Homo sapiens: one gene and its partners. The protein of the gene in region 2 interacts with the protein of the main gene of each other region in a pairwise test. Each region holds a gene or a part of one and is shown on either strand. Other genes may lie near its edges. The genes, in order: CASP6, BAAT, HIP1 and SETDB1.

The links.
Region 1: the proteins of BAAT (region 2) and CASP6 interact in binary tests that used the Homo sapiens proteins (3 or more experiments, as listed by UniProt).
Region 3: the proteins of BAAT (region 2) and HIP1 interact in binary tests that used the Homo sapiens proteins (3 or more experiments, as listed by UniProt).
Region 4: the proteins of BAAT (region 2) and SETDB1 interact in binary tests that used the Homo sapiens proteins (3 or more experiments, as listed by UniProt).

The regions. Positions count from the first base shown.
Region 1 is NC_000004.12:109,700,446-109,708,112, forward strand, and holds the start of CASP6 (caspase-6 isoform alpha precursor), read right to left. Parts: upstream 3,001-7,667; 5' UTR 2,951-3,000; coding exon 2,911-2,950; intron 1-2,910.
Region 2 is NC_000009.12:101,375,005-101,382,029, forward strand, and holds part of BAAT (bile acid-CoA:amino acid N-acyltransferase), read right to left. Parts: intron 1-7,025. UniProt on the Homo sapiens protein: Catalyzes the amidation of bile acids (BAs) with the amino acids taurine and glycine. More than 95% of the BAs are N-acyl amidates with glycine and taurine.
Region 3 is NC_000007.14:75,735,939-75,742,822, reverse strand, and holds the start of HIP1 (huntingtin-interacting protein 1), read left to right. Parts: upstream 1-3,881; 5' UTR 3,882-3,902; coding exon 3,903-4,022; intron 4,023-6,884. UniProt on the Homo sapiens protein: Plays a role in clathrin-mediated endocytosis and trafficking. Involved in regulating AMPA receptor trafficking in the central nervous system in an NMDA-dependent manner. Regulates presynaptic nerve terminal activity.
Region 4 is NC_000001.11:150,922,490-150,929,387, reverse strand, and holds the start of SETDB1 (histone-lysine N-methyltransferase SETDB1), read right to left. Parts: upstream 3,026-6,898; 5' UTR 2,871-3,025; exon of another isoform or gene 2,844-2,870; intron 1,685-2,843; 5' UTR 1,674-1,684; coding exon 1,414-1,673; intron 1-1,413. UniProt on the Homo sapiens protein: Histone methyltransferase that specifically trimethylates 'Lys-9' of histone H3. H3 'Lys-9' trimethylation represents a specific tag for epigenetic transcriptional repression by recruiting HP1 (CBX1, CBX3 and/or CBX5) proteins to methylated histones.

The DNA of each region.
Region 1 (7,667 bases), on a different chromosome or scaffold from region 2:
CAAGAGTTCTAGGACATAGTGTGCTATGACTGCCCCTGTGAATAGTCACCATACTCCAGCCTGGGTAACAGAGCTAGACCCCATCTCTTAATACATTCAGTTTCAAAGTTAACAGATTTGGCAACCTCAGTGAGGGATTTTTTTTTTAAGTTTTTTGTTGTTGTTGTTGTTTGTTAATGCTACGGATGTAGAAAAAAACCTAGGCTCTGGACATCCCAATTCTGATGCTGGCCAGCTGTAACTTACCTTCACTCTCACAAAGTGCACCCTGCATCCTGCAGTACCAGTTAATGACCAGGTCCAGTGGCCACTCTAGCAAACACTGAATCAGAACAAAAAGCTATGGAGACAGATGCCAGGACCTAAGTTCCAATACTTTTCTGGAGTTGATAAACTTTACCCACAGATTGAGAGAAAATAACACATCATGACCACCTTGAGCTGTGTATCCCAAGAAGACAAGCTTTCCAGAAGGGGGCACTTAAGTATCATTATGCCGCATTAATATTTATTTTTTATTACTATCTTTTTGGGATGGAGTCTTGCTCTGTTGCCTAGGCTGGAGTGCAGTGGCGTGGTCTCGGCTCACCACAACCTCCGCCTCCGGGTTCAAGCGATTCTCCCGCCTCAGCCTCCTGAGTAGCTGGGATTACAGGCATGCGCCACCACACCCAGCTACTTTTTTTTTGTATTTTCAGTAGAGACAGGGTTTTGCTATGTTGTCCTGGCTGGTCTTGAACTCCTGGCCTCAAGTGATCCACCTGCCTCAGCCTCCTGGAAGTGCTGGGATTACAAGCATGAGCCACCACGCCCGGCCTGCGTTAATATTTAAAAACCTGGATAAAGTAAGAAATAGCTTTATTGATATGGAGAAAATAAATTTTAATGAAGGAGCTACCCTGTATAACAGATATAGAAATTCCTTTTCATCTGCAATCTACTTATCAAAAATGTGCCCTTCTTTAAACCTGATTCTTGACCTCTTTTCACTTTTTTTTTTTGAGACAGAGCCTCCCTCTGTCGCCCAGGCTGCAGTGCAGTGGCGCAATCTTGGCTCACTGCAAGTCCACCTCCAGGTTTCAAGCGATTCTCCTGCCTCAGTCTCCCCAGTAGCTGGGACTAGAGGCGCCCACCACTGTGTCTGGCCCTCTTTTCACTTCTCTTCCTTTGCAGGATAATGTAACTGCCACCTCCTTATTCCTTAAATCAGCTTAGGTTTTACAAAACTAATCATTCCTTTTTTCACCTCACTCTAATTTGATAGTCCCTCCAGATAATCCTGCCAGCTACCATTTGTTGATGGCCTGATGCCTTAGATACCTTATCTCACAGCTCCACAGCTCAGGAACAGGGACAGAGAAAGTGGGCCAGGCGTGCCAAGGTCGGCAAAGTGAAGCTGGGATTGAAAGCCAGCCCACCTACAGATTCCAAAGTCTCTGTAGGCCCATCCCCACGCAGCCCCTCCCACCCGAGACCGGCTACCTTTCTAAACTTTGTTCAACTTCCCAAACGACTTCGGTCATTCTACTGTCATCGTCTTCATTCACTGCACTCTCTATGAAAATCTACCCATCGGCTCCATCAACAATGTATTTAGTAACCCTATGTAGAGTAACCTCCATCAGGCCTAGAACATGCACTGGGGAGTGCGGTGGAGGAAGAAGAGGAAGGGAGCAGGTGAGTGAAGGAAAGCCCCGGCTTCCCGCCCCTAGAGACTGCAACTGGACCCTGCACTGTGCCTCCAGGACAAGGCTACCTATCTACCTCCTCTACGACCATGTGACTTTTACAGCTTGCCTCTGGAGCACCATTTCCTTTGTGCAGCAAAATATAAAGAGTTCTTAAACAAAGGCACTCTAACCAACTGCAGGCGTTTCGTTCTTTTTTTTTTTTTTTCTTCTTGATTCGAAGTCTCACTCTGTCGCCGAGGTTGGAGTGCAGTGGGGCGATCTCGGCTCACTGCAACCTCCACCTCCAGGGTTCAAACGATTCTCTTGTCTCAGCCTCCCCAGTAGCTTGCGCCCAGGCCTGGCTAATTTTTTTGTATTTTTAGTAGAGACGGGGTTTCACCGTGTTAGTTAGGCTGGTCGAGAACTCCCGACCTCTGGTGATCCGCCCGCCTCGGCCTCCCAAAGTGTTGGGATTACAAGGCGTGAGCCACCACGGCCGGCCAACTGCAGGCGTTTCGACCTTTTTGTTTGTTTCACTCTGGCCAGGCTTGAAGTTTCTAAACTTTACCAGTAATAAGTGACAGAACGTACGCTCTTAGCAGTTGATTACTTTGCAGAAAAAAGTTATTGTGGTTTTGGCTCAAACCGACAGACAGCAGCAGGTTTCCTGGATGAAGAAGAGAGATACCGGGGTGTGCTGGCCGCCAGGAACTGGCCGCCTCCAGCTGAAGCCCGGGAGGACCCAGGGTCTTGGCCCGGGCACCCCGCGGGCCTGTTATGTTTTCATTATGACTCGGCGGAACAACCCCTCCTTTTCACTTTTCGAAGTGAGCAAACAAAAGATCCAACCCCCAACATTTCAAACGGCCAGGTGTGGGGGAACGCCAGGCCCGCGTGGGGACAGCCTTTTAAGGTTTAAACAGCCGGGGCGCCCCGAAAGCGCTCATCGCCCCGGAGGACAAAGGCGGCAGGGGCACGCCCCGGCGCCGGCGTCGCTACTCGGGACCGCCAGGAGGCGGCAGCCAGGTCCCCGAGTGTTTCTTAGACTGAAGCGCGAAACCGTCCCCACCCGCCCTGAGCGCTTCAATCCAAGAGTGCAACTTCTCCAGGCCGCCCTGCAAAGCCGAAGGAACCCGCGGCCCCACTCCGGTCCGCGCGCCCGGTCCACTAACCCTCGTTTCCCCTCCAGCCGGAGCAAGACGCAGACCTGCTCGGTGCCCAGTCGACGCCCCCTGCCTACCTGCCGGGTGCCCCCTGCGGAGCCCCGAGGCCGAGCTCATTGCAGCCAAACGCGCAGCCAGACACCTTGCCCTCCTCTTCCTGAAGCCACAGGCTCCCGGGCCCGGCCCCGCCCTCGGCCCTTCCTCGGCGGCCCCGCCCCCTGCCCCCGAGCGTGGGGCCAGTTGGTTCTGATTGCGCGCCGCCCGGGCTCCCGTGGATCGGGCTGGTCCTTCCCAGAGTTAAAGCTCCTCCCAGTCGCTCCGGAGCCCGCGGGGACCAAGAGCGCGGGGGCAGGGAGAGGTACGCGGTCTTCGCCTCCAGGCCCGCTGGGACTAACCGTGCCCTGGGGACATGCCAGTTGCCACCCGGGGGGACACACAGACCGCCTAGCCCGAGGCAATTTCACATCACTTGTGTGAGCTCGGACTCATTTAATCCCAGCTGCCCCAAACATTTGCTATTCCTTACTTTGCTATGCCTGTACTTTCTAGAGGTACAGGCATAGATTGTTTTATACCGCTTAGCAGATACTGCCTGTATTTCAACATTGGCTCGCTTTGTGTCTCTGTGTCACATTTTGGTACTCTCGCAATATTTCAAAATTTTTCATTGTTATTATGTCTGCTGTTGTGATCTGTGATCAGTAATCTTTAATATTATTGCAATTGTTTTGGGGCACCATGAACCGCGCTCATAAAGGAAGGGGAAATTAATCCATAAGCCCTGTATGTGTTTGGACTGTTCCACCGAACTTTCCCTTCTCTCTCCCCCTCCTGGGGCCTCCCTATTCCTGGAAACACAATTTTGAAATTAGGCCAACTAATAATCCTACAAAGGCCTCTAAGTGTCCAAATGAAAGGAAGAGCCTGTCACTTTAAATCAAAAGCAAACATGATTAAGTTAGTGAGGAAGTAATGTTGGTAGGCAGAAAGCTAGGCTTCTTGCTCCAGTTAGCCAAGTTGTGAGTGCAAAGGAGAAAAGCCAAGTCATGAATGCAAAGGAAAAAATTTTGAAGGAAATTAAAAATGCTACTCCAGTAAACACACAAAAGACAATAAAGCTAAACAGCCTTATTGCTGATATGGAGAAAGTTCTAGTTGGTCTGGATAGAAGATAAAAACAGCCACAACATTCCCTTAAGCCAAAGCCTAATCCAGAGCAAGGCCCTAACTCTTCAATTCTATGGAGGCTGAGAGAGGTGAGGGAATTGCAAAAGAAAAGCTGGAAGCTAGCAGAGAGGATGGTTCCTGAGGTTTAAGGAAAGAAACTATCTTCATGACATAAAAGTGCAAGGTGAAGCAGCAGGTGCTAACGTAGAAGCTGCATCAGGTTATCCAGATCTAGCTAAAATCATTGATAAAGGCAGCTACACTAAACAACAATCTTTTGTTTTTGAGACAGTCTTGCTTTGTCACCAAGGCTGGAGTACAGTGGTGCGATCTTTTGCAACCTCTGCCTCCTGGGTTCAAACGATTCTTCTGCCTCAGCCTCCCAAGTAACTGGGATTACAGGATGTGCCACCATGTCCAGGTTAATTTTGTATTTTTAGTAGAGACAGAGTTTCACCATGTTTGGCCAGGCTGGTCTTGAACTCCTGACCTTGAGCAATCTGCCCGCCTCGGTCTCCCAAAGTGCTGGGATTACAGGTGTGAGCCACCGTGCCCAGCCAAAACAACAGATCTTAAATGTATATGAAACGGCCTTCTATTGGAAGAAGATTCCATCTAAGACTTTCATAGCTAGAGAGAAGTCAATGCCTGTCTTCAAAGCTTCAAAGAACAGGCTGATGCTCTTGTTAGGGGCTAATACAACTGATGACTTTAAAGCCAACATTCCTTTACCATTCTGAAAATCCTAGTGCCCTTAAGAATTATGCTAAATATGATCTATAAATGGACCAACAAAGGCTAGTTAGTGACAGCACATCTATTTACAGCATGGCTTAGAGAATATTTAAAGCCCACTGTTGAGCTCTAGTGCTCAGAAGAAAGGTTCCTTTCAAAATATTACTCCTCATTGACAATACACCTGGTCATCCAAGAGTTCTGATAGAGATGTACAGAGACTGATGCTGTTATCGTGCTTGCTAACACAACATCCATTCTGAAGCCCAGGGATCAAGGAGAAATTTTGACTTTCAAGTCTTATTTACAAAATACATTTCATAAGGCTATAGCTGTCATCATGATTCCTCTGATAGTTCTGAGCAAAGTAAATTGAAAATCTTCTGGAAAGGATTCATCATTCGAGATGCCATTAAGAACATTTGTGATTCATGGGAGGTCAAAATATCCACTTACGGTATGTAACTAGAGACTAGAGGGGGAAAAAAAGAAAAACGAAAAATTAAAAGTACATGTATCAGCCACAGTGGCTCATGCCTGTAAACCCAGCACTTTGGGAGGCCAAGGTGGATTGCTTGAGGCCAGGAGTTTTGAGACCAGCCTAGGCAACAATGCAAGACCCTGTCTCTACAATTTTTTTTTTTTTTTAATTAGCCAAGAGTGGTGGCACATGCCTGTATTCCCAGCAACTCAGGACACTAAGATGGCAGGATTATTTGAGCCCAAGTTTGAGGCTGCAGTCAGCTGACTGTGCCACTGCACTCCAGTCTGGGTGACAGAGTAAGACACTCTTTAAAAAAAAAAAAAAAAAAAAAAAAAAAATATATATATATATATATATATATATATATAATATATATAAAATACATATATAAATATTTAAAAATTATATATATTTCAATTGGCACACTGGGTGGTATTTTACAGGCAGGACAACATACCTATCCATTTTATATATATATATATATATATATATATATATATATATATACACACACACATATACACACACACATACATTATACATAGGTATATGCATATATCTCCACATTAACAGGAGTTTGAAAGAAGTTAATTCCAATCCTCATCACTGATGTTGAGGGGTTCAAGACTTCAGTGAGGGAAGTCACTGTAGATGTGGCAGAAGTAGCAAGACAAATAGAATTGGAAGTGGGGCCTGAAAATGTGGCTGCATTGTTGCCATCTCATGATAAAACTTTGATAGATGAGGAGATGCTTTTTACGGATGAGCAAAGAAAGTGGTTTATTGAGATAGAATCTACTCCTGGTGAATATGCTGTGAATTGTGTTTAAATGACAACAAAGGATTCAGGGTATTAGTTGACAAAGCAGTGGCAGGGTTTGGGGGGATTGACCCCAATTTTGAAAGAAGGTCTGTGGATAAAATGCTACCAAACAGCATCACATGCTACAGGGAAATCTTTAGTGAATGGAACAATCAATGGATGGCCAGGTGCAGTGGCTCATGCCTGTAATCCCAGGACTTTGGGAGGCCAGGAGTTCGAGCCCAGACTGGCCAACATGGCAAAACCCTGTCTCTACTAAAAATAACAAAAATTAGCCGGGCACGGTGGCAGGCACCTGTAATCCCAGCTACTCAGGAGGCTGAGGCACAAGAATCACTTGAACCAGGAGGCAGAGGTTGCAGTGAGCCAAGATCATGCCACTGCACTCCAGCCTGAGTGACAGAACGAGACTCCATCTCAAAACAAACAAAAAAATGAAGCAAACTTCCTTATTGCCTTATTTTAAGAGATTGCCAGTCATCCCAGCCTTCAGCAACTACCACCCTAATCAGTCAGCAGCCCTCAACAATACCCCACACCAACATTTATAACTCGCTGAAGGCTCAGATGATCCCTAGCATCTTTTAGCAATATTTTAAAATTAAGGTATATACATTATTTTTTTAGACATGTTATTGCACACTTAACAGACTACACTTTAGTATGAAAAACTTTCATATGCACTGGGAAACCAGAAAATTTGTGTGACTCTTTTATTGGTGGTCTGGAACCAAACTCGAAATCCCTCTGAGGTATCCCATAGGGGGTGGCATATATGTTCCTGTTTCATGTGTAGTCCTTTCCCCAGTGCAAGTTACTTTGTAGGACTTGCAGTAACTTATTTTAAATGTTCTTTGTATATGAAACTTGGGCCAAAGTAAACTGGAGGTAACTCCTGGATTTTTTTTTTTTTTTTTTGAGACAGTTTAGCTGTTGTTGCCCAGGCTGGAGTGCAATGGCATGATCTCAGCTCACCGCAACCTCTGCCGCCCGGGTTCAAGCGATTCTCCTGCCTTGGCCTCCCAAGTAGCTAGGATTACAGGCGTGCACTACCATGCCTGGCTAATTTTGTATTTTTAGTAGAGATGGGGTTTCTCCATGTTGGTCAGGCTGGTATCAAACTCCCGACCTGGTATCTGCCCACCTTGGCCTCCCAGAATGTTGGGATTACGGGCATGAGCCACGACACCTGGCTTCTCCTGGATTTTTCAAATCTGGCTTTCATAGGTAGAGCTAATTCAGGGACAGAACCATGCAGAAATTCACAGAATGATGAGGGTCTCTAGATAATGGTGTTTCCTGGGGAGAGCATGTTGTCCTACCCCAAAAATAGCAGCCAAACAGTGTGCCAACAAGGTGCCATGGGGTGCTCAATGTTGGATTTAATTTAGCTCCTCCTTGGGTGGTTGGCTATTGTAAAAAATTTACTTTGACAATGCTTTCAGATTTGATGAAACGGTGGCTTTATCTTTTGTAATTCCTCTGGACCTTGTAATTTTAAAAGTAAGCAACCTTAGAGTGGGAAAAAAATTAAAATGTGTTAAGGCACCACTTCTAATATATTAAAATAAGTATAATGAATACTTAAGAAATAAGTATAAGGAACTCATCTCATACTATTATTT
Region 2 (7,025 bases):
TGGCTGTGTTCCCAACCAAATCTTAACCTTGAATTGTAATAATCCCCACATGTTAAGGGCAGGGCCAGGTGGAAATAAATGAATCACGGGAGTTGTTCCCCCCCATACTGTTCTCATGGTAGTGAATAAGTCTCACAAGAACTGATGGTTTTATACATGGGAGTTCCCTGCACAAGCTCTTTTGCCTGACACCATGTAAGACATGACTTTGCTTCTCCTTTGTCTTCTGCTATGATTGTGAGGCCTCTCCAGCCATGTGAAACTTTGAGTCCATTAAACCTCTTTCCTTTATAAATTACCTACTCTCAGGTATGTCTTTATTAGCAGTGTGTGAACAGACTAATACAGTTACAAAGCAGCTTCCTCCTTTGTTGTTTGTCAGAGTGGCTCTTTGTTCCTTCAGGATCCTAAACTTCTCATTCAAAGTCATCTCTGTCTGTTTTCCAGCACAATTTATGTCAATTGTAGGGTTCCACTTTAGGAACTTTCGTTATGTCAGATTGCTTCCATTTTGTTAAAAATGAAGATACAGCAGTATGAATTAATCCTGATTTCTGTGTTAGGCATTGCACTGCTCCAGGATTGTCCAAAGATAGAGTCAAAATTCCTCCGTTTGTGGTGAAAGTGAGACAGCCAGTGGGAAGGAGTCCATGGAAAAACTCCAACCGCGGGCGAACTGGGAGGAATGCACACTGGGGTGCCACCGAAGTTTCTGCTATTTGCAGTAGGGAGGAGCCTGGCCCCTCCTCTTCCTGTGTGGAACCTTGGATTCAAATGGCGAGGCAGGGAGCGCACTAGCTGCGATTCCGGCTTTGCCGAAAGTAACTGTTCCCCCTTTTCTCCTTTTTGCCCAATAAGTTCCATTTTTCTCACTCCGCAAATTGTGAGCCTAAATTTTTGTGGCCGTGGGACAAGGACCACATCTTTAGCTGAACTAAAAAGAAGTCCTGCAACAAAAATCTGCCATTGATGAGTTCTCTTTCCGACTACGTTATCCAGCAGTTGCTGTTGTGTTCAACTGGGTCTGAACCTTCACGTCTCTTCTGAAATGAAAAGTTGCCTGACGCATGTGTTTCTGATGGCTTAATTTATTTCCATTCTTGGTAAAATTGGCTGGAATGTTTTTTTTTTCTGTTTAGCTGGTTAGGTCCCTTGAGAACTGCAACTGGTTTTTTTCTGCACTTCATATTTGTCCCAGAAGGTTTGCCTTCCTTTTTAACACTAGAAAATATCGTTCTATATTCCTGTCACCTAGAGACGGATGATTCATAGGATTAATTTCTTTGTGAATTCCAGTTGCTTTCCTAGATGCAAGGCCAGTGATAACTCCATAAAGCTGTCTCTTTCCAGGCATTACTCATCCTCTGTGCTCAGACTAGTCTTACCAAAGCCAGAATTCTGTTGAATTCTCCATCATATGCTCATCCTGAATTGCCAGGCTCCAGTTAGAAAATTATGCTTCTTTCCTCCCTGTCAATTTAGTTTGATGATATCATCCAAAGACATACCAATTTTGTTGAGATTTTCATTGTTGCGGGCTTTCAGTGGCAGCAATGGGGTCACCCTGCCTCCCACCAACCAGGTACCAAAATGGTTCATGGCTGGGGATGCCTCACTAGAACAGTCAGCAGAGAAGGCCACAGTTGGAGGCCTGCCACCTCCCACTCACGCACAAAGACTAGCTGCATTGTTGGAGGCCTGCCACCTCCCACTCGTGCACAAAGACTAGGAGCATGTAGGCATGCTGGCCCGGTTTAGTGGTATTTTAAAGATTGTTTCAAAATGAATGGAAGAAATGATATAGATACAAATAAATAGATCTAAAAGTTAGAGAAAGAGAAACATAGAAAGCAATTTTGTAAGAGGGCATTAATGGGCATTAGGTAGATTCCATGTCTTTGAAACTGTGAAAAGCTATTGTGAATAGTGCTGCAATGAACTTTCATATGCATGTGTCTTTATGGTAGAGTGATTTATTTATATTCCTTTGGATAGAGAAAAGCTTTATGGAATTCTTGTGTGGTCAAAAGCTGAGTGAGAGTCAATGAAATCATTCATAAAATTTTATTAAAATTAGCTTTACTATTGATAATACTCTAATACAAAGCAAAATTTAGTTTTCTCTTTTGAACAAGATTTTTGGATAGTATTAATGAGAGATAATAAAATTTTTGTTTACCTTTTGAGTCTTAATACAACACTATCAAATGTTGGGTGGACCAAAGGGAGTCCCTGCTGGTTCCCCAACATTAAAGAGCCCCAAATCAGTTTTCTATATTTACACCAGATTGGGGAAGTTTCAAAAATCAGAAGGCAAAAATTACAATGAGAAAGCTGATTAATAATTTCCTGGGGCAATGTGGAGACAGACTAATCAGATAAAGATTGACAAAAAGGCCCACATCCCTTGGCTCAACTCCTTGCTGGGAACCCAGAGGTTTTTTCACAAGAGAGGGTAAAATGGTCTGGGGGTGGAGTACAGAAGTTCCTGAGACTAGAGCATAAAATATAAGGATTGATAGGATTATAAAAGCTAAAATGTTTACAACACCCCTTCATGCTAAAAACTCTCAGTAAACTAGATATTGATGGAACATATCTCAAAATAATAAGAGCTATTTATGACAAACCCATAGCCAATATCATAATGAATGGGCAAACCTGGAAGCATTCCCTTTGAAAACCAGCACAAGACAAGGATGTCCTCTCTCACCTCTCCTATTCAACAAAGTATTGGAAGTTCTAGCCAGGGCAATAAGGCAAGAGAAAGAAATAAGGGGTATTCAAATAGGAAGAGAGGAAGACAAATTGTCTCTGTTTGCAGATGACATGATTCTATATTTAGAGAACCCCATCATCTCAGTCTAAAAACTCCTTAAGCTGATAAGCAACTTCAGCAAAGTCTCAGGATACAAAATCAATGTGCAAAAATCACAAGCATTACTATACCAATATTAGACAAGCAGAGAGCCAAAACGTGAGTGAACTCCCAATCACAACTGCTACAAAGAGAATAAAATACATAGGAATACAGCTTACAAGGGAAGTGAAGGACCTCTTCAAGGAGAACTACAAACCACTGCTCAAGGAAATAAGAGAGGACATAAACAAATGGAAAAATAATTCCATGCTCATTGATAGGAAGAAGTGATACTGTGAAAATGGCCATACTGCCCAAAGTAATTTATAAATTCAATACTATTCACAGAACTAGAAAAAACTACTTTAAATTTCATATGGAACCAAAAAAGAGCCCATATAGTCAAGACAATCCTAAGCAAAAAGAACAACACTGGAGGCATCATGCTACCTGACTTCAAACTATACTACAAGGCTACAGTAAACAAAACAGCATGGTACTGGTACCAAAACAGATATATAGACCAATGGAACAGAACAGAGGCCTCAGAAATAACACTACACATCTACAACCATCTGATCTTTGACAAACCTGACAAAAACAAGCAACAGAGAAAGGATTCCCTATTTAATAAACGGTCCTGGGAAAACTGGCTAGCCATATGCAGAAAATGGAAACTAGACTTCTTCCTTACACCTTATACAAAAATTAACTCAAGATGGATTAAAGACTTAAATGTAAAACCTAAAACTATAAAAACCCTAGAAGAAAACCTAAGCAATACCATTCAGGACATAGGCACAGGCAAAGATTTCATGACTAAAACACCAAAAGCAATTTCACCAGAAGCCAAAATTGACAAATGGGATCTAATTAAACTAAAGAGCTTCTGTTCAGCAAAAGAAACTATCATCAGAGTGAACAGGCAACCTACAGAATGAAAGAAAATGTTTGCAGTCTATCCATCTGACAAAGGGCTAACATCCAGAATCTACAAGGAACTTAAACAAATTTACAAGAAAAAAACAAACTGCCTCATCAAAAAGTGGGTGAAGGATATAAACAGACACTTCTCAAAAGAAGACATTTATGCAGCCAACAAACATATTTAAAAAAAGCTCATCATCACTGGTCATTAGAGAAATGCAAATCAAAACCACAATGAGATAATATCTCATGCCAGTTAGAATGGTGATCATTAAAAAGTCAAGAAACAACAGATGCTGGAGAGGATGTGGAGAAATAGGAACAGTTGTACACTGTTGGTGGGAGTGTAAATTACTTCAACCATTGTAGAAGACAGTATGGTGATTCCTCAAGGATCTAAAACCAGAAATACCATTGTTAGGAGGTCTCCAACTCCTGACCTCAGGTGATCCGCCTGCCTCAGCCTCCCAAAGTGCTGGGATTACAGGCGTGAGCCACCGCATCCGGCGAATGTCGCATTTTGACATGCCCAGGAACCTCCAGTTATTTGGAAATCTTTAGAAGAATTCACCCAATTTATACAGCTATTGCAGCCTGATGGCAAATCCCTGGCTTTGTTAGCCTCAAGGCTTTAAAAAAATCTGAGATTCTTTATTTAAAAGTTCCAAAAAAGCCAATTTTACAAGAACCTATATGGCCAATCACTATTCTTGCTGCACTTTATGCAAATAATCAGGTCAAGCATAATGAGACTAAAATTCATTTTGCAAATAAATTGGTCCTACAATAATTTATCCTTGGTAGAAATAGAGAAACTTAGAAAAAAATTGTTTCAGAAGAAAACTATTGTACACCCATGATTAGATTCTAGTCTTAACCATTGTTTTTATTACTTGCCTACAATTTGGACTAAATCCTAAATTATTTTGTGGCTACAAGAAGTCTCTAAAGACAAACCCGGTTTTAATTTTCTTCATGTTGTTTTTAGTTGGCTCCCTAATGGAATAGGTTCTTTTTTGTTGTTGTTGTTCTGGCATACAAATTCTGTTTTTGATTGTAGTCCCTTGTGTGCATATTAATGTTATTTATCTCTCATTGTTTTACTTCATCCAAGAAAATCAAAATCATGGTACTCCAAAGACTAGAGATGATTCAAGAAAGCCTATGCATTTTTTCTCATCTGAAATCCCACTGGGCCTGATCTGTTTCCCATTGCCAGTGCACTGCTGCTAAAGCTGTACAATATCAAGCACCCTTCCTCTAAACTCAAAGACCATTGAAGAAGAGGACAGTGTGTGAGATTCTAAAAGCCCAATTAGAAAGCTGGAGTGTGGAGGTTATAGCAACTCCATCTTGAATTCTAATCTGCCAGTTGACATCTGATTAATCCCACTTCTAGGAATGCCTTTAAGATTTCTGCCTTATCTACTATCTCTTGTATAAGAGCACCTACCATAAATCCTACCCTTAGGCAAATTCCTACATATTCCTGCTGAAGCATGTATATCCTTTCCCTATGGTATATCAACCCTGGGTCTGGGGAGTAACAGTGAGGGGATCCTTTGTCTCACAGCTGCCTGAGACACAGCTTCTGTTTGTAAGCCCCTATTAAATGTTTCTCTCTGAGAAACTGTTTTGTCACTCTCTTTGTTCAGTGTCTCAGCTCCCTTGGCCTTTGGGGGTAGGTTTGCACAGACCTGCTCACTTACCACAGAGCAAGCTTACTCACAGCATGGTGGCTGGGTTGGAAGGGCAAGCAACACAAGAGAGAAAAAGCTAGGTAGAAGCTGTATCCTTTTTATATCCTAGCACTGGAAATCACATAGCATAATCTCTGCCATTTAATAGCAGCCACAAGCTCCCATCAAAATTCAAGTGGAGAAAATGTTGATACCTATTAACAGTAGGAGATATGTCAATCACATTGTAAAATTTTTTTAAGTGGATGAAACGTGTATGTGTATTTGCTTTTTATTTTTTAAGATGGAGTCTTGCTCTGTCGCCCAGGCTGGAGTGCAGTGGTGCAATCTTGGCTCACTGCAATCTCCACTTCCCAGTTCAAGTGATTCTCCTGCCTCAGCCTCCCGAGTAGCTGGGATTACAGGCACCCACCACCATGCCTGGCCAATTTTTTTGTGTTTTTTTAGTAGAGATGGGGTTTCAGCATGTTGGTCAGGCTGGTCTCAAACTCCTGACCTCAAATGATCCGCCTGCCTCAGCCTCCCAAAGTGCTGGGATTACAGGCATGAGCCACCGCACCTGGCTGTGTGTGTGTATTTGTATGTGTATTTGTGTATACATTTTTGGGAAATGCAATCTGCCACAAGAGGAAAGGAGGAATAAAGGAGCAAATAATAAATGGGATGAATGGAAATGGGAGTTTAAACCCACACATATCAATAATTACGTTAAATACAAACAGATCAAACACTCCAATTAGAAGACACAGGCCAGGCGTGGTGACTCATGCCTGTAATCCTAGCACTTTGGGAGGCTGAGGTATGAGGACCGGTTGATCCCAGGAGGTTGAGACCAGCCTGGGCAACATAGTGAGATCCCATCTCTACAAAAAAAAAGTAAAAATTAGCTGGGTGTGGTGGGGCAAACTTGTAGTCCCAGCTGCTTGAGAGGCTGAGGCAGAAGAATTGCTTGAGCCCAAGAGGTCAAGGATGCAGTGAGCTGTGATCATGCCACTGGGTGAAAGAGCTGACTCCACCTTGGGTGAAAGAGCTGAAATCCTATCTCTAAAATAAATACATACATAAAAATAAAAAAGAAGACAGATTGTCAAACTAATTGAAAAAGCAAGTGGTTATTTTTCAGAAACACATTGTCAAAAAAAGACAGATTGAAAGTAAAAGAAAATATATGCAACAGTGTTTGTGTTGCATATATGTGTATATATAGATGAGAGATGAGACAGACACAGACATAAATACATGCTGACAAGAATGAGCCTACAGAGAGAGAAGTCCTGAGAATGATAATTCAGTGGTGAGTAAACATTGAATATGTTTCCTGAGAAGCTTAAAAATAAGTGATACTATAGCTTCCAAGTACCGTATTTCATTTGTTTTCTTGTAATCAAGAAATTGAGTACTTAAGATCATACAGAAATACATGAGAGTCAGAAATGGAATCTACATTTCCAACTCTTAGTCAAATTGATTAGTACTTCAAAAAGAATTTATCAAGAGTCTACATGTCATAGTCACTGACAGATAAGATGCAGTTCCTA
Region 3 (6,884 bases), on a different chromosome or scaffold from region 2:
CAAAAAAAGAGAGAGAGAGAGATTGGGGTATTCATCCCCCAGCTGCCTCCCTGCCACGCCACTTTCCACAGTGACTGTGGGTTTTCTACCTAAGGTCACAGCTCTGGGAAAATGCCTACTTTCCCATGACCAGAGCCCCCACCAGGTTACAGCACAGCTCCCTCCCCTTTTCTCTTTAGGTCTAGAGATGGTAACAGCTTCCTGGTGTTCCAGTAATATCTGGTGCTTTACCTGTCCCGGTTGATTCCCTTAACTCAGGTCACACCTTTGTACATAGTTCCTTCTCTTTCTTTTTCCTGAGAGAGGGTCTCGGTCTCTCAGGCTGGCGTGCAGGGGTGCAATCATAGCTCACTGCAGCCTCGACCTCCTGGGCTCAAGGGATCCTCCCGTCTCAGTCTCCTGAGGAGCTGGGATTACAGGTGTGCACCATCACACTTGGCTCACTGCAACCTCCACCTCCAGGGTTCAAGCGATTCTCGTGCCTCAGCCTCCCAAATAGCTGGGATTACAGGCGCGTGCCATCACACCCTGCTAATTTTTGTATTTTTAGTAAAGACGGGGTTTTGCCACGTTGCCCAGGCTGGTCTCGAACTCCTGGCCTCAAGTGAGCTGCCTGCCTTGGCCTCACAAAGTGCTGGGATTACAGGCATGAGCCACTGTGGCACGGCCACAAAAAATTTTTTAAAAATTAGCCAGACATGGATGGGCATGGTGGCTCATGCCTGTAATCCCAGCACTTTGGGAGGCTGAGGCGGGCAGATCACTTGAGGTCAGGAGTTCGAGACCAGCCTGGCCAACATGGTGGAACTCTGTCTGTACTAACAATACAAAAATTGGCCGGGCATGGTGGCATACACCTGTAATCCCAGCTACTTGGGAGGCTGAGGCAGGAGAATAACTTGAACCTGGGAGGCAGAGCCTGCAGTGAGCTGAGATTGCGACACTGCACTCCAGCCTGGGCAACAGAGCGAGAGTCTGTCTCTTAAAAAAAAAAAAGGAAGAAACTATGTACAAAGGTGTGACCTGAGTTAGGGGAATCAACCAGGACGGGTAAATTGGCAAAGCACCAGGATTTGCTGGAACAGCAGGAAGTCACTACACCCTATCTCTAAATAAATAAATGTTTTTTAAAAATTGAGATTTTTGTTTGTTTGTTTTTTGTTTTTTGCTTTTTGGAGATAGAGTTTCACTCTGTCATGCAGGCTGGAGTTCACTGGTGCGATCTCAGCTCACTGCAGCCTTCGCCTCCCAGGCTCAAGTGATTCTCCAGCCTCAGCTTCTCGAGTAGCTGGGATTACAGGCACATGCCACCACACCTGGCTACTTTTTTGTATTTTTTAGTAGAGACAGAATTTCACCATGTTGGCCAGGCTGATTTTGAACTCCTGGCCTCAAGTGATCTGCCCGCCTCGACCTCCCAAAGTGCTGGGATTACAGGTGTGAGCCACGGTGCCCGGCCAAGGTAATTTCCTCTTCCTCTGTCAGCGCCCCTACCGTGCTCCCACGCTCAGTTGTCATCTCCCTCTCCCTAGACATGAAAAATCAGGTGACATCTAATCTCTCCCAAAGCAACACAAGGGAGGGGGCACTCCCAAAGCCTCCCACAGAAACACAATTTAAGTAAAGGTGAAACCAGTCCAGTCCTTCCTATGCAAATGTAGCCTGAATGGCACCGCCATTGCCCATCCCCCAATCCCTGTGTCCAAGCCTTATTTGCGTAACCTCCCACGGGACAGAACTTCCTCCTCTCCCTTCTCTTCTAGGCCCTCATCATCTCTCATCTACGCTAGAGTCTCCCCACTGATTTCCTCCCTTCCATCAGGCCCCCATAATCCATCCCCACAATACAAGCTCCTCAGTGCACACATCTGAGCAAAAGTCTTCAGTGGCTCCTTAGTAACCGCAAATGCCCACCCCTCTTTCACTTCTCTATTGAATGTGTGAATTTTTACCAAACGCTCTTATTAAAAAAAATAAAAACAAAAACAAAAAAAAAACAGGCAGGGCAGGGTGGCTCACACCTGTAATCCCAGTGCTTTGGGAGGCTGAGGTGGTAGGATCATTTGAGCCCAGGAGATCATGACCAGCCTGGGCAATCCAGCAACATACCCCTCACTACAAAGAAATATGTATATATTTTTTTGAGACGGGGTCTCGCTCTGTCTCCCAGGCTGGAGTGCAGTGGCGCGATCTCTGCTCACTGCAACCTCTGCCTCCCTGGCTCAAGTAATCCTCCCGCCTTGTGAGTAGCTGGGACTACAGGCTTGCACCACCACGCCCAGCTAATTTTAAAATTTTTTGTACAGATGGAGTCTTGCTATGTTGCCCAGGCTGGTTTCAAAGTTCAGAGCTCAAACGATCCGCCTGCCTCAGCCTCCCAAAGCGCTGAGATTACAGGTGTAAGCCACCGCACCTGGCCAAATTTACAACACACACACACACACACACACACACACGAATCACCAAATTGTTAGGCCTAAAGGTGCCATTCATTACTCCGAGTTTCAAATAACTTTTAAAAAATACATCTATGCCGGGTGCTGTAGCTCATGTCTGTAATCACAGTACTTTGGGAGGCCAAGGTGGGAGGCTTGCTTGAGGCCACGAGTTCGAGACCAGTCTGGGCAACATAGAAAGACTCCATCTCTGCAAAAAAGATAGCCAGGCTTGGTGGCGTGCATCTGTAGTCCCAGCTACTCGAGAGGCCGAGGCAGGAAAATCGCTAGGACCCAGGAGCTCAAGGTCCCAGTGTGTTACGATCTGCACTCCAGCCTGGGCGACAGAGGGAGACTGACTCCAAATGAAACCAAAAAAAAAAAAAAAAACAAACAAAAACAAAAACAAAAACACACCTAAATTGGAGTTTAACGGAAAACTTTTAACTTTCTCCAGCACTCCTGCTAAGCATCACACTTCTCTCTGCTTGCTGGTACCCTGGCTGACGTCTGAGCAGGATGGGACGCGCGGCTCAGAGCCTAAGATAAACCGAAAGTGTCTACAGGGCTTTCTACCAACAAATAAGCTCTGACGGGTTCCTTTGATGAGGTTTGGGAGGCAGGTCCCGGGAGGTGCCCGCGGACTCAGCCCCGAACTCCGGGACCTGGGCTCTGCGATCCTTGCAGAGGGCATGGGCAGGGGCAGAATGGAGAAGTGCAGGACGGGGAAGCCTGGGAGCTGGGTGGGGGCGGCCACCCATTGAGCCGGATCCGGCCAGGCGCCCACGCTGCGCCCCGCCCGCGGGGCTGCGCTTTCCCGGGCTGCGGCCGCAGGGCTGGTCAGTCCGGCGCTCCCGGGTCCCAGGCCCGGAAGGAGCTAACGGGCTATTCGCAGGCGGGCTGGGATTCCCCCGGGGGAGGCCCCACTGCCCGGCCCGCGTCATCCCCGCCCATCTCCACGGGCCGTCGCGGGATAGCCCCCTGCAGGAGCGGGCAGGGTAGTGGGCGGCGCTTGGCGGAGGGCAGCACGCTCGGGGCGCGCGGGGACTGCGGCCGAGGGGAGGAGAGGGCGGTGCGCGGGCGGGGGCGGGGCGAGCGAGGGCATATCAGGGCAGCCCGCCCAGGCCACGCCCCATCCAGGCCTCGCCCCGTCCGCACCCCGCCCCGGCCCTGCCTAGAACGGCGGGACCACGGTGACTGACAGGACTCCAGACCAGTCACCACGCGCCTCGAGGCCCCGAGAGGCTAGTCGGGGCCGAGCCAGCGGAGGGGCTCCTGAAGGGGCGGGGGCGGGCGGGGAAGCCGTTCGGCGAGGGGCGGGGTCTCTGGAAGACTGGCAGAACTCACAGCCAATGGCAGGCGGGAGCCGTCCCGTTAGCGCCGGATCCCCGCGGGTAGGGCGGGGCGGGCGGCGCCGTGGGGATCCCGGGGCAGCCGAGGGCCCCTGACTCGGCTCCTCGCGGCGACATGGATCGGATGGCCAGCTCCATGAAGCAGGTGCCCAACCCACTGCCCAAGGTGCTGAGCCGGCGCGGGGTCGGCGCTGGGCTGGAGGCGGCGGAGCGCGAGAGCTTCGAGCGGACTCAGGTGAGGACGGGGGACCCCGGGGCATCCCTGGGGCACCCTGAGGGACGCGGTGTCCGGGAGGGGCTTTGAAGGGAGTAGGAGTCTTGCAGGCCCCAGTTGAAGACGGGGCGAGGGTGTAGTGAGCGGGGGCATTGACGTGCAGATCTGGGCGATCCCAGGAAGGTCGGGGACCCCAGGGTACCCCAGCTGGCCTGGGGAGAAGGGCAGAGGCGGGCTCGGAGGAGATGGCAGGATGCGTGGCCAAGAGGAGCCTGATCGGCTGGGTACCGGGCAGGAGTCCCAAGATGAGGTGAGAGGGGAAGGAACTGAAAAGGGGCGGAATGGAAGGGTTGCCCCTAAACAAGGGAAGCGCACGGGAGCCACTTGGAGGCTCAAGTGTGGGGGCGGAGAGTGGGGGCGCCGGGCTGGGAATGTGAAGGGTGAGGGGACCTCTCTTCCCCTCCGATCACTTCTTGGTTGCATTGACATCCCTTCCCACCCCCCACCCCTTAGCATCCCCCTTTCTCGATGCCTCTTGCTTGGCTCTGGCCAGCCCCAGCTGTCAGCTCTGAGGCCGGGCGGAAGGGGTCGGAGCAGGGAAAAGGAATGTAGGAAATGCAAAGTGTGGCCACTTTGTGGGAAAATTACTTTGGGGGCTAAAGTGGAGACCATGGTGCCCCTGAGCCCTGACTTGGGGTCTTGGTTTTATCCCCCAAGATGTGCCTGACAGCTAATAGGCAGACTGCCCTATTTGTCCTGCCTGGCCAGGGCTTGGGGCCAAAATTCCTCAGTGTCATCAACAAAAAGCCACAATCCATTTTTTTCTCCGAGTTTTTAATGCCTGGTGTATTGATTGGGCTGAATTAAGCTGACATGTTGATGGTGTTCATCAATTCATTTGTATGTAAAATCCATTTCAAAGAGTACAACGCTTCTTTTAATCCCAGTGCCAATGCTGGAGGGGCAGATTTCTTCTACACTCTTGTGCTCAGAGTGGAACCTTTGAAGATCCATTTGGGTCCCCCTCTCCAGAGGCTGGTCCCCTGATGTGTTATGCGAGGAATACTTCCCCCAAACACAGTTGGAGGGAAAGGGCTTTGGGATTTTAGTTAGAAAAGACAGTGAGAATCTGACTGAAGGTTCTGTATATGGAATCTTTCAAAGAATAGAGCTTTTGGCCGGGCGCGGTACCTCACACCTGTAATCCCAGCACTTTGGGAGGCCGAGGCGGGTGGATCACCTGACGTCAGGAGTTTGAGACCAGCCTGGCCAACATGGTGAAACCCTGTCTCTACTAAAAATACAAAAAATTAGCTGGGCGTGGTTGCAGACGCTTGTAATCCCAGCTACTTGGGAGGCTGAGGCCAGCAGAATTGCTTGAATCTGGGAGGTGAAGGTTGCAGTGAGCCGAGATGGCGCCACTGCACTCCAGCCTGGGCAACAAGAGCGAAACTCCGTCTCAAAATAATAATAATAAAAAAGAATAAAGCTTTTCACCCCCAGAGGACTTCATCCCCTCTTCTTATTCTGAAAACCTTTGGCCCCCCACCTGGGCAACATAGTGCGACCCTGTCTCTACAAAAAATAAAAAAATTAGGCTGGGTGCATTAGCTCACACCTGTAATCCCCGTACTTTGGGAGGCCAAGGTGGGAGGATCACTTGATCCCAGGAGTTCGATACCTGCCTAGACAACACACTGAGATCCCGCCTCTATTTTGAAAAAATTTTAAAATTATCCTCGTGTGGTGGCATACACCTATAGTCCCAGCTGTTTGAGAGGCTGAGGCATGAGGGTCACTTGAGCCAGGAGGCTGAGGCTGCAGTGGGCTATGATCGTGCCACTGCACTCCAGCCTGGGTGACAGAGTGAGACTCTATCTCTACAAAAAAGTGAAAAAAAGAAAGAAAACCGCGCGCAGGTGTGTCTGGATAGTGTGAAGCAGTGGGACCCTGTCTCTACAAAAAAAAAAAAGAAAAAGAAAAAAAGAAAGTGCCTCCATGCAGGTGTGTCTGGATGGTGTGAAGCAGGGAGTCTTCTCTACCTGGTTATCCTACCCCAGGAGGGAAGTGGGAAATGGTCATTTCACTTCTGCCTCCCAGGATCCAGCTAGGTTTGAGGCTTGTTCTCTGGTTTCATGGACCCGACCCCTGAAAAGAAGGAAGTTTTCCATTGGTCTTGGATGTTAGTGCCTCTGCTAGCTGCCTAGTTACATGAGGCTTCTTGCTCCATGAAACAGTGTGTATATTCCTTTTATTTTTATATTTTCATAGAGATGGGGGTCTCACTGTGTTGCCCGGACTGGTCTCAAACTCCTGGCGTCAAGTGATTCTTCTGCTTCTGCCTCCCAAAGTGCTGGGACTACAGGCATGAGCCATGGCACCCAGCCCTATTTTTTTTTTTAATAAATGAAATAAGAAAATAAATAGATATTATTTTTTAACAACCCGTTCCTTCTAGAGTCTCAAATAAGTAAAAACTAGAGCAATAGAGAAATATGCGTAAGACTTTGACCCATAATAGTGATAGAAATTAGGTTTGTGAAAGTTTCCACCCGTGAGTGGTATGTTTCCCTGCTATCCAGGGACGGCCCAACAGGAGAGTCTAGGTCAGTGTTTTCTGGTGTTTTACATTCTGTGGGACATTTGTGATTGGCCAGATTTGACCTGGGTGGGGTGGGTGGGGGTGAAGTAGAGTGGAGCAGAAAAAGAGAATTTTTCTGATGTTGAAACTCTTATTTTTAACTTTTTTTTTTTTTAAGACGGAGGTCTCACTGTGTTTTCCCAGGCTGGTCTTGAACTAGCCTCAAGCGATCTTCCCACCTCAGCCTCCCAAAGTGCTGGGATTTCAGGTGTGAGCCACTGCACCCAGCCTCTGGTGTTGAA
Region 4 (6,898 bases), on a different chromosome or scaffold from region 2:
AATAAAATAAAATAAAAATAAAATAAAAAAATGCTCATTATCAGTGGCCATCAGAGAAATGCAAATCAAAACCACCATGAGATACCGTCTCACACCAGTTAGAATGGCGATCATTAAAAAGTCAGGAAACAACAGGTGCTGGAGAGGATGTAGAGAAACAGGAACACTTTTACACTGTTGGTGGGACTGTAAACTTGTTCAACCATTGTGGAAGACAGTGTGGCGATTCCTCAAGGATCTAGAACTAGAAATACCATTTGACCCAGCAATCCCATTACTGGGTATATACCCAAAGGATTATAAATCATGCTGCTATAAAGACACATGCACACGTATGTTTATTGCGGCACTATCCACAATAGCAAAGACTTTAAACCAACCCAAATGTCCATCAATGATAGACTGGATTAAGAAATGTGGCACATATACACCATGGAATACTATGCAGCCATAAAAAAGGATGAGTTCATGTCCTTTGTAGGCACATGGATGAAGCTGGAAACCATCATTCTGAGCAAACTATAGCAAGGACAGAAAACCAAACACCGCACGTTCTCATTCATAGGTGGGAATTGAACAATGAGAACACCTGGACACAGGATGGGGAACGTCACATACTGGGGCCTGTCGTGGGGTGGGGGGAAGGGGGAGGGATAGTATTAGGAGATATACCTAATGTAAGTGACACCAACATGGCACATGTATACATATGTAATAAACCTGCACGTTGTGCACATATACCCTAGAACTTAAAGTATAATAAATTTAAAAACAATGTATTCTAAGTGACAACTAGAGCACCAGAAACAAATCTTTTGGGGGTATGGGAACTTACTAATGCTTCAGAGTTACGTAAGACAGAAATTCTTTACAATCCTCACTCCCTGGATGATCTTACTAGGGAAATGAAGCAATTGTTCTAAGATAGAGCACAGGAGGAAGAAGGGGAAAGGACTTAAGACTTGGACTCCCTTACTGCTGATCATGTATTAGCTGCTGACAGATGAAAATTATATTTACGGCTGATTGTAAGGTCAGATTTTTGACCATAAACTTTGAGGAAGAGTAAGGTTCTAAACATCTGTACTTCATAAAGTATAAAATGTTTGGTACACAGCCTGGCCAACATGGTGAAACCCTGTCTCTACTAAAAATATAAAAAATTAGCTGGGTGTGGTGGCGGATGCCTATAATTCCAGCTACTCGGGAGGGGGAGGTGGGAGAATCACTTGAACCCGAGAGGTGGAGGTTGCAGTGAGCCAGGATCACTCCACTGCACTCTAGCTTGGGTGACAGAGCGAGACTCCGTCTCAAAACATAAAATAAAATGCTTGGTTCAATGTCATGAACAATTATTCTCTAAAAACATCTCCCAATGGAGAGATTTCCTTCTATTTTCCATGGAGTTCTCACCTGGATGCATCATCAAAGAGTTGGTCAACGTGAGCCACCTCAGATTCTTTCTGTATTACCCATGTCTCTAACTCTGCTAGCTGCTTCTTGCGTTGCTGTACACAATCCATCTTCTCCAGTTCCTCATCGATGAAATGCCGAAGTTCCTCCATAGAGATACCCAGTTCCTCAACCACTGCCTGTTGCAGCTCTGCAATCTCTTCAGACTCCACTGTAGCTGTTGCTGCATCCAAACCAATGCACCCAGGAAGGGAAGACATGCTTTTGTCCTCTGCATGGAACAGAAAACAAATTAAATTGGAGTCCTTATAACTACAATCAATCAATAGAGAATTTCAGTTCCCTAATAAAACTAATTCCTACTCTGCTGCCTGTTATTCTATTCAAATATTCCATGTTCTCCCTCCCTATTCTCCAGAATCTGATGCTGAGATTTTTAAGAGTTCTTATCTTCTGCTGTACGCTAACACTCCTGAAAAAGATTTAAGAGTTTGAGACGGCATGGAGAACATTCATTAAGCAGTAGAGAGCTACTGAAAATAATGTTTTGGGCTGGCACAGTGGCTTACACCTGTAATCTCAGCACTTTTAGAGGCCGAGGCAGGAGGGTCGCTTGAGGGCAGGAGTTCAAGACCAGCCTGGGCAACATGGCAAGACTCGTCTTTACAAAAAAATACAAAAATTAGCCACGTGTGGTGGTGCACGCCTTTAGTTCCAGCTACTCAGGAGGCTGAAGTGGGAGGATCGCTTGAGCCCAGGAGTAGCTGCTGTAGTGAGCTATGTTCGCGCCATGCATTCCAGCTTGGGTGACAAAGTGAGACCCTGTCTCAAAACAAACCGAACTTTAAAAATAATCTTTTGGGATACTGAAGAGAACCAATCTATAAGATATTTTTGTGGTCTATATGTGTTCCTTAACTAATGTGATAAATCTTTGTATGCTATGCCTAATTTAAACAAAACCCCACCTGGGGATGGAGTTGATTTGGAACTCACTAACTCAGTGTTTTCTCTTTCATTACTTGTTCCCCTTATATTACTTTGCTTCCATGTGGAATTTTACTTTTTAAAAAGTCTATGATATTCAAACACACGAAAGCTTGCAGCAAAAAGGTTTCCCCCAAAGTACAGAGAAGTAAAGCAACCTGGGAATAAAACGTGGGTACCTAATATCCACAATCCAAATACTTCACACATTCGTGTGAACTGCTTTTTTAATCAAACGGTTAAAGAAAATCTGATTTTCAGCGCCTCCATTTTCCTCTGCCCACACACCAGCCCACCCCCGTGCTACCCATTCTAGGGGTGCGTCCTACCCATTCGCAAACCCAGTTCAGCCCCGCCCCCGTTCGCCTCTGGGGAAGACTTCCTTCCCACCCTCGCCCGACCCCCTCCCACAAACAAAACGTCCCAGATAAGCCTTTGGTCACCAAATAACTCAACAGTATTCCCCGCACCTCCCGTCTTCCAGCTTCAAGGGCTCTTTTTCACCAACCAGACCCCAGACTCACAACTCAGGGGTCGGCCTCGACGGAAAAGAGCGAAAGCGAAGGGATAAGGGAGGAGGGGGAGGGGAGGAAGCGTGAAAGAGGGAAGGGGAAGCAAAAGAAACGCCCGGAAGCAAACCTTTAGTGCCGTTCCGGTCACCGCGACGGTAGCCTGACGGGGTCAAATCCAAAGCCGCGGGGCGCCCCTCAGAGGCGACGAAAACTAAGGTAACTACGCATGCGTTAAGGCAGAGCCTTCCAGGGGCACACGTGAGAAGAGACTGGCAGGGCAGAGTAGGCGTGGCCAGTATATTACCGAGTCTCCGCCGCTCCTACCACCCTCGACTAGTGGCCCCATTACTATATTCATTGTGTAAAGACTTAGGGAAACGCTCATAGGTTCAGAGCTTTATTCTCTCAGTTTTACTTGAGTTTGTTTTGTTACATAAGTGATACAAATTGTAAAGGCTATCAAGATGTAATAAGAAAAACGTGATAATATTCTCTCTTGCCCCATCACCACTCCGCTCCTTTCAGGTAATACAGCTTCATTTTCCAGTCTTGTATGTACGAGTTTCTGTATTTGGATTTTTGTTGTTTTCATTTAACATGTGGACATTACCTGAAGCCAATAAAAAAGGTAAAACTTGTATTTTTGGCCGGGCGCGGTAGCTCACGCCTGTAATCCCAGCACTTTGGGAGTCAGAGGCGGGCGGATCACGAGGTCAGGAGATGGAGATCATCCTGGCTAACACGGTGAAACCCCGTCTGTACTAAAAATGTTAGCCGGGCGTGGTGGCGGGCGCCTGTAGTCCCAGCTACTCGGGAGGCTGAGGCAGGAGAATGGCGTGAACCCGGGAGGCGGTGCTTGCGGTGAGCGGAGATCGCGCCACTGCACTCCAGCCTGGGCGACAGAGCGAGACTCCGTCTCAAAAAAACCAAAAAAAACAAAAAAACAAAAAACCAATAACTTGTATTTTTGACACCTGAATAGTTTAGATTGTTTAGATTGTTTTCCGTTCTCAGCCCCGACAAATAGCGCAACAATAAAAATAAACATCCTTTTGAAGTAGTACTTTTATTTCTGTAGAAAAGATTCCCCAGGCCGGGCGCTTTGTGTCCGAGGCGGGAGGATTGCTAGAGCCCAGGAGTTCCAGACCAGCCTGGGCAACACGGCGAAACGCCATCTCGACTAAAAATACAAGGTAAAAAAAAAAAAAAAAAAGCCAGGCGTGGTAGTTCGCGTCTGTGGTCCCAGCAACTCCGCAGCTGAGGCGGGGGGAGGATCGCTTGAGCCCCGGTGGCAGAGGCTTCAGTGAGAGGAGATCGCGCCACTGCACTCCAGCCTAAGTGACCGAGCGAGACTCCGTCTCAAAAACAAAACAAAACAAAAAACAAAAAGAAAAGATTTCCCAAAATGGAATTTGAGTAAAATAATATGTGCTTTTTTCCTTTTTTTTTTTTTTTTTTTTTTTTTTGAGAAGGCGTTTCGTTCTATCGCCCAGGCTGGAGTGCAATGGCGCGATCTTGGCTCACTGCAACCTCCACCTCCCGGGTTCAAGCGATTCTCCTGGCTCGTCCTTCCGAGTAGCTGGGACTACAGGCGCGTGCCACCACGCCCGCCTAATTTTTTGTATTTTTAGTAGAGACGGGGTTTCACCGTGTTAGCCAGGCTGGCCTCGTCACACCTCGGCCTCCCAAAGTGCTGGGATTACATACAGGTGTGAGCCACTGCGCCGAGCCTTCCTTTTTTTGTTTGTTTGTTTGTTTTTGAGACTGAGTTTCGCTCTTGTCACCCAAGCTGGAGTGCAATGGTGCGATCTCGGCTCACTGCAACCTCCACCTCCCGGGTTCAAGCAGTTCTCCTGCCTCAGCCTCCCGAGTAGCTGGGATTACAAGCCCCTGCCACCACACCCGGCTAGTTTTTGTATTTTTGGTGGAGACGAGGTTTCGCCATGTTGGCCAGGCTGGTCTCAAACTCCTGACCTCAAGTGATCCACCCGCCTCGCCTCCCAAAGTGCTAGGATTACTTACAGGCGTGAGCCACTGCTCCCGGCCCTTTCTTTCTTTTTCTTTTCTTTTCTTTTTTTTTTTCTGAGACAGAGTCTCGCTCTGTCGCCCAGGCTGGACTGCAGTGGCACGATTTCGGCTCACTGCAACCTCCACCTCCTGGGTTCAAGCGATTCTCCTGCCTCAGCCTCCTGAGTAGTTGGGACTACAGGTGCGTGCCGCCACGCCTGGCTAATTTTTTGTATTTTTAGTAGAGACGGGGTTTCACTGTGTTAGCCAGGATGGTCTCAATTTCCTGACCTTGTGATCTGCTCACCTTGGCCTCCCAAAGTGTTGGGATTACAGGCATGAGCCACCTCGCCAGGCCTTTTTTTTCCTTTTTTTTTTTGAGACGGAGTCTCGCTCTGTAGCCCAGGCTGGACTGCAGTGGCGCGATATCGACTCACGCAAGCTCCGCCTCCCGGGTTCCGCCTCCTGGGCCTCCCAAAGTGCTGGGATTGGGATTACAGGCGTGAGCCACCGCAACCGGCCTTTTTTTTTTTTTTTTTTTTTTTTTTTTTTTTTTTTGAGACGGAGTTTCATTCTCGTTGCCCAGGCTGGAGTGCAATGGCTGGATCTCGGCTCACCACAGCCTACCTACGCCTCTGGGTTCTCCTGCAACAGCCTCCCGAGTAGCTGGGACTATAGGTGCCCACCACCACGCCCAGCTAATTTTTATATTTTTAGTAGAGACGGGGTTTCATCATGTTAGCGAGGCTGGTCTCGAACTCCTGACCTCAGGTGATCCACCCACCACCTCAGGTGATCCACCCACCACCTCAAGTGATCAACCTGCCCTGGACTCCCAAAGTGCTGGTTTTATAGCGGTGAGCCACTGCACCCGGCCATTCTCCTGCCTCAGCCTCCCGAGTAGCTGGGACTACAGGCGCCCGCCACCACGCCCGGCTAATTTTTTGTATTTTTAGTAGAGATGGGGTTTCACCGTGTTAGCCAAGATGGTCTCGATCTCCTGACCTCGTGATCTGCCCCCCTCGGCCTCCCAAAGTGCTGGGATTACAGGCGTGAGCCACCGCGCCTGGCCTTTTTTTTTTTTTTTGAGACAGAGTTTCATTCTTGTTGCCCAAGCTGGAGTGCAATGGCAGGATCTCGGCTCACCACAACCTACGCCTCTGGGGTTCAAGCGATTCTCCTGCCTCAGCCTCCCCAGAGGCTGGGATTACAGGCATGCACCACCACGCCCGGCTAATTTTGTATTTTTAGTAGAGATGGGGTTTCTCCATGTTGGACAGGCTGGTCTCAAACACTCGACCTCAGGTGATCCGCCCGCTTCGGCCTCCCAAAGTGCTGGGATTATAGGTGTGAGCCACTGCACCCGGCCCCTTTTTTTCCATTTTAATAGAATCTGCGGTCAAATTACCTTTCTAAAAGGTTGTAACAATTATTACTCTCACTAGCAAATCTGAAAGTGTTTCCCCACACCCCTATTAGTACTGGGTGTTAACTACTTAATTTTTAAGAACTTGATATGTATTAAAATAGTATCAGTATCAGGATAGACTAGGTTATGTTGTGGAAACAACTCCAAAATCTGAGTGGCTTAAAAGAAAAAAAAAAGGCGTGTTTCTTGCTCACACTACATAATCATCTCTGGAAGGTATGGTGGGGCTCTGCTAATGATAGCTACTGGGGAAACCCACACTGATGAGTAGTAATACCAGAGGGAAAGAATGCTAGAGGGACTCATATTAACAAAATGACTCAAGACACTGATTTTTACAACTCATTGACCTGAATGAATCACAAAGTCCTACACAACCACCAGGGGGCCAGGAAGAGCAGTTATCTTACCTCTGGGAGGAGGGAGAACCTGGTGTGTCTGATGAACCAGCTTTATTGACTACCACAGCGTCTTATCATTGCTTTAATTTGTTCATGTGTCTTTACACTAACTGTACTAGTTATTGAATCTACATTTCATTTAAAAAGTA